Homo sapiens: one gene and its partner. The protein of the gene in region 1 purifies or fractionates together with the protein of each later gene. This does not show direct contact. Each region holds a gene or a part of one and is shown on either strand. Other genes may lie near its edges.

Region 1 (3,500 bases):
CGCTCTCTTACACAGCAGGTACCTAGACATTCTTAAAGTTCATCACTCTCCACTACACTCCGAGAAGAGCATGAATACACCATCGTGCTTTCCATGGAGGAAAAGGCAGAAAATATGTCAAGTCCTTTACTGGTGAGAGATCCGTAGCGACTGCCACTGGGCCGGACAGACATGGGCGGTGGGATCTGATGGTGCCACTGAGCTGGAAAATGGACCAAATAATGTGTTATGATCAAAGGAATGCAGTCCAGCATGTACGCTGCAGAGGTGCATTCTGTCCTCACCCCGATTCTCCCTGAGCATTCTTGGTAAAGCATATAACTATACCTGGGTCTGAATTGCCTCGTTTGTAGAAGAGAACAATAAAGCCTTCCCTGCCAGGAATAAGGAAACTGTGCTGGTGATATCTTAAGCCCCTAATTCCAAAATCTGTGATTCTAATTCAGTAAGAGATTAGAATCCTACAAGTGAGAGATTAGAATTCCTCTAAGATGCGGCCAGGCACGGTGGCTTATGCCTGTAATCCCAGCACTTTGGGAGGCTGAAAAGGGCACATCACTTGAGCTCAGGAGTTCAAGACCAGGCTGGCCAACATGGCGAAACCCAGTTTCTACTAAATACAAAAATTAGCTGAGCATGGTGGCATACACCTGTAATCCCAGCTACTCAGGATGCTGAGGCACGAGAATCACTTGAACCCAGGAGGCAGAGGTTGCAGTGAGCCAAGATCACACCAAGGCATGCCACTTCACCTGGGCGACAGAGCGAGACTCCATCTCAAAAAAAGAAAAAAACAAACAAAAAAAAAAAAAAAAAGAAAAGAATTCTATAAGATGGAAGAGTGGGTGACGAGGGTGATTTCTCAAGCTTATCCCCTTCCAGCGTCCTACCATGAAGACCTGTTAGGGGCAGTGTACAGAGGGTTGTAGGCTCTCAAAGAGGGTACCTCAAAAGATAGAGACAAGAAAGCTGCAGAAATGAAAGCCAAACAATGGGTTTGCCCCTCTGAGCAGTGCCTACCTCACACCCTAATCACCCTAATCAGTCATTACCTACCTACCCACCTCCCTAATCAGGTTCTATTGTTACAGCAAGAAGACTGAAAAGTAATTTAGATACAATCAACCATGGTTCAGGGACAAAAGATAATTTATTAGAGTTTCTATGTTCACCAAGTGCTGCTGTTTTTAGCAGATATGACTTTAAGGTTTGAACATGGCCTGAGCGAGCTATCTGTCCAAACTTCACAGTCTCTGCTGTGGTTTCTGATTCAGAAATTACTGGGCAATCTTCTGATTAGGTTTCTGGGGACCTTGGTGTGCAGAAGGGCGTTCCCTAGGTGGGGAACTCTCGTGCTCTGGGTCCTGGAAAGCTGTGCCCCTTTCTAGCATTCTGATTTAGAAATTGGTCCTTTGTTGATTTCATCATCTTGATTCAGTTTTCCAGTCTACATACCTCTGAGTGAATTCAGAAAAATCAAAATTTGGAGGACCAAACCTAGAGCGGTTTCACTAAAGAGCAGACACTCAGTAAGGCCTGCTCTTGCGCAGTCTCTCCTCCCAGCCCCTCCATCTCTTAGCCCTTCCCGGCTCTCTCTGACATCTTAACTGGACTACTGCATTTCCTAGGATTAGGAAGTGAGAGAAGAGAGGGGAGCCCTACGTGTCCCTATTCCTCAGAAAGGCAGGAAGTGTGGTGGCGGGGAAGGGAATCGATTCCAGCCCAAGTCCTCCACGCGTCCTCCATCCTAGGTCCCAACTGAGGAAACAGCACTGCCTATTGTTGGTGCTATGGAAGCAGGACAGGAACGAAAGGGAGAGGAGAGCCAGGGCAAAGTGACCTGGAAACTCAGCCACTGGAGGGCAGGATTGGCACAAGAGTCATCTGTTTCAGGGCTTATTGGTGGGGAGTTTCTCAGTTGGAGACCTACTGCCTTCTGACTTGGTGAAGACTGGGAAATGGTTAAGGACTGAGCCTTGATTAAGGAACATATCACTACTGGCCTCTTTCTCCCCCGATTTCTCCAGGGAAAAGTACATTAGTGTCTGCTTCCTTCACAGTTTAATCTCTTCTCAAGTCCTAGGATAAGGGAAAATAACCAGAAAATTATATATTTTCTCCAAAAACTAGACCTAGAGAAAATGGCAGGCTGAAGCCCCTCCTGTATGGTACTAAATAAAGGGAATACCTGCTATGCAACCATAAATAGCAGAGAGATCTATCAGGTAATAGACAGAGCTAGTCTTATTTATTATTTTGGCTAATTAGGTTAAGCCAGTTTTGAATGTGAGATTTTCTAATCAATTATGTTTTTTCAAAAAGGATTAAAAAAACCACTCTTTTGGGTTAAGAAATATGTCTCTAAAAATACCAGTTAATGTCAAAAAGTGTAGGATTGAGCACACAAATACATAAATAAAAATTTATTTCTTAGATCCTTTTGAAAATTGGAAATGTGGTTCAAAGAAACAATGCAAAGGCCTAGATTTGCTTCCTAGCTGTAGTCATTAACCTCTCCAAGTCTTCCACTAAATATATAGCACAGTCAATTTAAGTGTGGGGGAGCTTTCCAGAAGACGTGCTCCAGCTCAGTCTAAAAGGTTGAGTGGAAACTCACAGGGAGGGTGGGGTGGGCTGTTCCAGGTGGTGGGACAGCCTGTACAATGTTGTTACTCTCATGTAATTTTCAGCGTTAAATGAAGGTAACTACAATTATAATAATCTCATGGGTCTGGGAGATTTAAAGGTATCACTTTGAATCCCGCCTTTGGACGAGAGAGGGGAGCCTATGTGTCATCCTACAAATGTCACTTGATATTATTATTATTATTAGGACAGCTCTCTATTATTAGAGAAGTCTGGGGGATTGGAGCAACACACATTTGTTAAAGGAATAAATGAAAGGAGTTTCAAAAATTCTGCCGGGGCATCACAGGCAGTGGGAAGTTCCAGTGGGTGGCCCGCGGCAGCAAGGAGATGGCAAGAAAACATTGGCTGTTCAGAGGCACAAGCACTTGCAAACTCTGGACTAGCTGTAATTCCTGGTATTAGAGGCACTGTTCTGGAAGAAGGTGAAGCTCATAGTAAAATGTAAAAGTGTACAAACGCCCTGAGGTAACCAGGATGAGATGACTTTTAAAATCTATCTCTTAAGCACTAAAATATAGTATAGTCTACCCGATTCATTTATGGAAACATATTCCATCTATATTTATTTATTTATTTATTTTGAGGCAGAGTCTTGTTCTGTTGCCCAGGCTGGAGTGCAGTGGTGCAATCTCGGGTCACTGCAACCTCTGCCTCCTGGGTTCAACCAATTCTTCTGCCTCAGCTGCCCGAGTAGCTGGGATTACAGGTGTGTGCCACCATGCCTGGCTAATTTTTGTATTTTTAGTAGAGGTGGAGTTTCATCACGTTGACCAGGCTGGTCTTGAACTCCTGACCTCAGGTGATCTGCCTGCCTCGGCCTCCCAAAGTGCTGGGATTACAGGCATGAGCCA
Region 2 (5,119 bases), on another chromosome or scaffold:
CTTTTTGCCACTTCCCAACAGAATGGCTATTTATTAAACAATTATTTTATAAACCTTGAAATCATTTTAAAGTTTGCTTCACATAGATCTTGTATATTTAAGTTTATTTCTATGTAGTTTATGGTTCTAGTTCATACTGTAAAGGATCTCTTCTTCAAATATATATTCCACATGACTTTTTTGTATATAGGTGACTGAGTTTTGTGTGATTTCATATTTTAATAGTTTATGTTTTCACATGCGTTTCTCAGATGTTCAAAATTCTTTTTTTTTTCTTTTTTTTGAGACAAGAGTCTCACTCTGTCATCCAAGCTGGAGTGTGGTGGTGCAATCTCAGCTCACTGCAGCCTCTGCCACCTCCCAGGCTCAAGCAATCCTCCCAACTGAGCCACCAGAGTAGCTGGGACTACAGGTAAACACCACCATAGCTGGCTAGTTTTTAAAATATTTTTTCTAGAGACAGGATTTCATCATGTTACCCAGGCTGGTCTCAAACTCCTAGGCTCAAGTGATCCGCCTGCCTTGGCCTTCCAAAATGTTGGGATTACAGGCAGGAGCCACCATGCTTGGCCAAGAGTCAATGTTATAGATAAATAAATGATAAATTTGCCTCCTCAAAAACAAAACAAAGCACAAGCACAGGGGTGCATTCACACACACACACACACCCTCTCTCCACACATGTACACTCAATCACACACACTCTGACACTACCACACTCATGCACATTTGCCCTCTCTCCACACATTTACATACTCACAATATCTCTCTCTCACACACACACACTCTCTATTTCCCACACACACACAAATGGATGCTGATGTGGTTGGCCAGAGCAGGGCCATGAAGCCAGCTGGCCTTCCTTTCACCAGGAGACAAGAGTGGATGCTCTAAGCAGGTCCCAGTTTTCTCTCCCAATTTCCTGAAACCCTGTCCAGCAAGAAAGGCTTCTAGGGAAGTGCTGAAGGTGGAGAAAATAGAATCTGGACTTTAAAACAGCCTTACCTCTGCGTCAAGGCAATCTTCAGCTTGTCATTCTCAGACTTCAGGTGTGTGTTGGCTGGACCGGCGTGAGAGGCCTTTTCATCGTCCGTCCCGTTGACACTGGATGCCTGAGTAGAAGATGGGGTTTCACGCCCAGATTCCTGGCCAAAGTGAATTATCTTCACACGTTATTGCTTGTCTGCACATCGGCAGCAAGTTAGGCATAATAAGAAACTTTACGAGTGTGGACGAACCAACTCATCCAACCAGAATGCAGCAAAGACTAACAAGTTTTTGTTTTTTTTTTAAACAAACAAACAAACAAAAAAGAAAACAAAACCTAACAAAGACTATCATGACCAAAGAAAAAGGCACTGAAGAGACCATGTGGAGTTCATAAAGTCTGTGTGCTTTACTGACAAGGGAACACCTGGGCCAGTGCTCAGAGCCTTTTTACTTACGCCTTATGGAGAAACCCACCAAACTTGGGAGACCTGGTCTCCTGAAATACCACAGGGCAGAAGCCACAAGGGAGGAGGGACTCTTAGAAACAAGGAATGAAAAAGCACATATTAGAAAAGGAGACAACTTAAATATCTTGGGGCTATGGAGAGTTAGATCAACACATTCATTAAAGAGACAAGAACCAGGTCCTGTTGTTTGCCCACTCCCTTACTACTTAGTGCTGTTATGAATATGTTCAAGTGTTTTCCGTAAGTCATACCACGTAGAGGTGAAATCTCATCTGGTGCTAGATAAGACCTTAGAAAGATCTTATTTAGCCTCAAATAAGTACATGGGCAAAGGAAGAAACTAGAAGAGAATGGTGTATAAATCCAAGTTTCAATTTCTGAATTTCAAAAAAAACACCATAAACAAAATTAAAATGAGACAAAAACCCGGGGGGTGGGGAGGGGATGGGAATATATACAGCAGTACATATGAAAAACAAAATGTCGGCCGGGCGCGGTGGCTCACACCTGTAATCCCAGCACTTTGGGAGGCTGAGGCGGGCAGATCACCTGAGGCCAGGAGTTTGACACCAGCCTGGCCAACATAGTGAAACCCTGTCTCTACTAAAAATACAAAAGTTAGTCAGGCGTGGTGGCATGCACCTGTAATCACAGCTGCTCGGGAGGCTGAGGCAGGACCCGGGAGGCGGAGGTTGCAGTGAGCTGAGATCGTGCCACTGCACTCCAGCCTGGGCAACAAGAGGGAAACTCCAACTCAAAATAAAAAAAAGGAAAAAAATATTAGTATCTTTCCTATATTGACAAGCTCTTAGAGTCCTCATCTTTTAGAGCTACATGCTGAAATATTTACGGATGAAATGAAACATCTGGCATTTGCTTTAAAATATGGTGGGGGGGAGCAAATGAGTAGGTGCACAGATTAAACAATTGGTCATAATTTCCTAACTGTTAAAGCTGACCTATGGGTACAGGAAGGTCCATTATACAATTATGCCTAGATTTGCATATGTTCACATTTTTTTGTGTTTAAAAATAAAGCTCTTGAAAATCAATACAAAAGATTAACACCTTAACTTAAAAAGGGGTAGGTAATTGATATTCACAAAAGAAGAAAAGCATACAATCGATAAACATAAAAATATTTAATCTCACTAGTAAAGAAGTACAAAATGAAGGCCAGGTGTGGTGGCTCACACCTGTAATCCCAGCACTTTGGGAGGCCAAGGTAGGCAGATCACTTGAGGTCAAGAGTTCAAGACCTGCCTGGCCAATATGGTGAAACCCTGTCTCTACTAAAATTACAAAAATTAGCCAGACATGGTGGCAGGCGCCTGTAATCCCAGCTAATGGGGAAGCTGAGGCAGGAGGATCCCTTGAACCTGGGTGGCAGAGGTTGCAGTGAGCCGAGATCACGCCACTGCACTCCAGCCTAGATGACACAGTGAGACTCTGTCTCAAAGATAGAAGATAGAAGATGAGAGAGAGAGAGAGAGAGAGAGAGAAAGCGAAAGAGAAAGGAAAGAAAGAAAAGAAAACAAAAGAAAAAAAGAGAAGAGAAAAGAAAAGAAAGACTTTTCATCTGTCAAATTAACAAAGCTTTGCTGATGAGGGTGTGGTAAGAAAAAGCCTTATTCACTGCAGGTGGGAGTTAGAATGGTGTATTTCTGCAGGCTAAGTTTGTGGTATGCATCACAAGCTTTAAGAACATCCATACCTTTAACCCAATATCTCCATTTCAAGAAGTTATGCAGAAACCACCAAATGCACAAAGACATGCAAGAACATTCATCACAGTGTTATTTATATTAGTGAAATTTTAGAAATGCAGATGTCACAAATTATAGGTTAACCAAATAAGCTGTGATACCAACACTAGAATGCTGTCCAGTCATTAAAACAGTTTTGAAAAGGAATAATCATGACATAAAGTTAAAAGGTATAATATAAAATATATCCTGGAAAAGTATGTTAGAAAGATACACACCAAAACACTAATAAAATATCTTCAAGTGGTGAGAAGGTAGATGATTTTTATTTCCTTCTTTATAGTATGGTATATTTTTCCTTTATACAATAAACATGTATTGCATTTATAGTCACAAAACAGCCCCACATTTTAAGTGTTTTTGTAATTAGGCTGCTTAAAAATCCAACTATTTTGAAAACTTAATCAAAGTGTTCATACTCTAAGAGATTCAGGAAACCAAGTAATTGTGTGATTACTAATTTTAAAAAGCATACAAGGGCCGGGTGCAGTGGCTCACACCTGTAATCCCAGCACTATGGGAGGCCGAGGCAGGCAGATCGCCTGATATCAGAAGCTTGAGATCAGCCTGAGCCAACATGGTGAAACCACATCTCTACTAAAGATACAAAAAAATTAGTCGGGTGTGGTGGCGCATGCTTGTAATCCCAGTTAGAGAGGCTGAGGCAGGAGAATCCCTTGAACTTGGGAGGCAGAGGTTGCAGTGAGCAGAGGTTGCAGTGAGCAGAGGTTGCAGCAAGCTGAGATCGCGCCACTGCACTCCAGCCTGGGCAACAGATTGAGTCTCTGTCTTAAAAACAAAAACAAAAATAGTCTTTCTCTCTCTTTTTTTTTTTTTAATAGAGATGGGGTTTCGCCATATTCCCAGGCTGGTCTCGAACTCATGAGCTCAGGTGATCCACTGGCCTCGGCTTCCCAAAGTGCTGAGATTACAGGTGTGAGCCGCTGTACCCAGCCTTAAAAAAATACATACAATAACCTCTATACCTGGGGAACTATCAGGAAGGATAAATACTGCTAAAGATTAGAAACAAAAAGTCATTCCTAAATAATACATATACGTTAAATAACATCTTATTAGGTATACATGTATTTTTAAGGTTTAAAATACTTAGCTTATGCCTGTAATCCCAGCTACCTGGGAGGCCAAGGCAGGAAGACTACTCGAGCCCAGGGGCAGCACAGCAAGACCCCGTCTCAAATAAATAAACTTTTGAGAGGGGGTAAATATTAAAACAAAATCTTATCTGGAGAAATTCAGATATTAAACTTAAATATATCACTGTACTATGCGGTATTCTGAAAAAGATAGTATATTAGAAACTTTCTAGACCATGGACAATTTCAGATGCTGAATTTCATAGGTCCTCAGAGATTAATCAAGTAATTAGCATACAAAATTAATGGTATCACTGAATCATATTAAAGATTATTTAGAAAGATTCAGGAAAGTTCCTGTCTACCTGAAATCGAATTCACATGCATTTCCATAGGTCCATGTGGGCATATTTTATATGATGAGGCCAGAACAAGGTATTGGAAAGACAACTCAAGGCAGACATAGGTTCTGCCTTTGTGAAACATCCTGAGCCACACCAAATCTCCTGTCCCAAGGGTCGGCCACAGCACTGACAAACCCAGGGTCCCTGTCAGCATTCTCTCCCCTCCTCTCTGAGCACCGACATATTGGGCATACTCCCTCCTGGGGCTCAGCGATGCTGGAATTTCTCCCTCCCTGTCATCTTTGCTGGCTCCCATTTCATAACTGGGCCTATTTCCTAGGGCTCCAGCATCTGCCCTCCTCTCTCCACTGCTTCTTTGTGCACCCGAGACTGCAGCTACTGCCCCTGTGAGGCTGATGGTCAAGTCTAGAGCATCGATCTTGACTGCTCAAGAT

What was found. The genes of interacting proteins can lie anywhere in the genome.
Region 2: the proteins of MYPN (region 1) and HOMER2 purify together in Homo sapiens (affinity purification with mass spectrometry; one large-scale study listed by BioGRID and IntAct). This does not show direct contact.

The regions. Positions count from the first base shown.
Region 1 is NC_000010.11:68,206,988-68,210,487, reverse strand, and holds part of MYPN (myopalladin), read right to left. Parts: intron 203-3,500; coding exon 33-202; 3' UTR 1-32. UniProt on the Homo sapiens protein: Component of the sarcomere that tethers together nebulin (skeletal muscle) and nebulette (cardiac muscle) to alpha-actinin, at the Z lines.
Region 2 is NC_000015.10:82,858,024-82,863,142, forward strand, and holds part of HOMER2 (homer protein homolog 2), read right to left. Parts: intron 1,146-5,119; coding exon of another isoform or gene 1,113-1,145; coding exon 1,006-1,112; intron 1-1,005. UniProt on the Homo sapiens protein: Postsynaptic density scaffolding protein. Binds and cross-links cytoplasmic regions of GRM1, GRM5, ITPR1, DNM3, RYR1, RYR2, SHANK1 and SHANK3.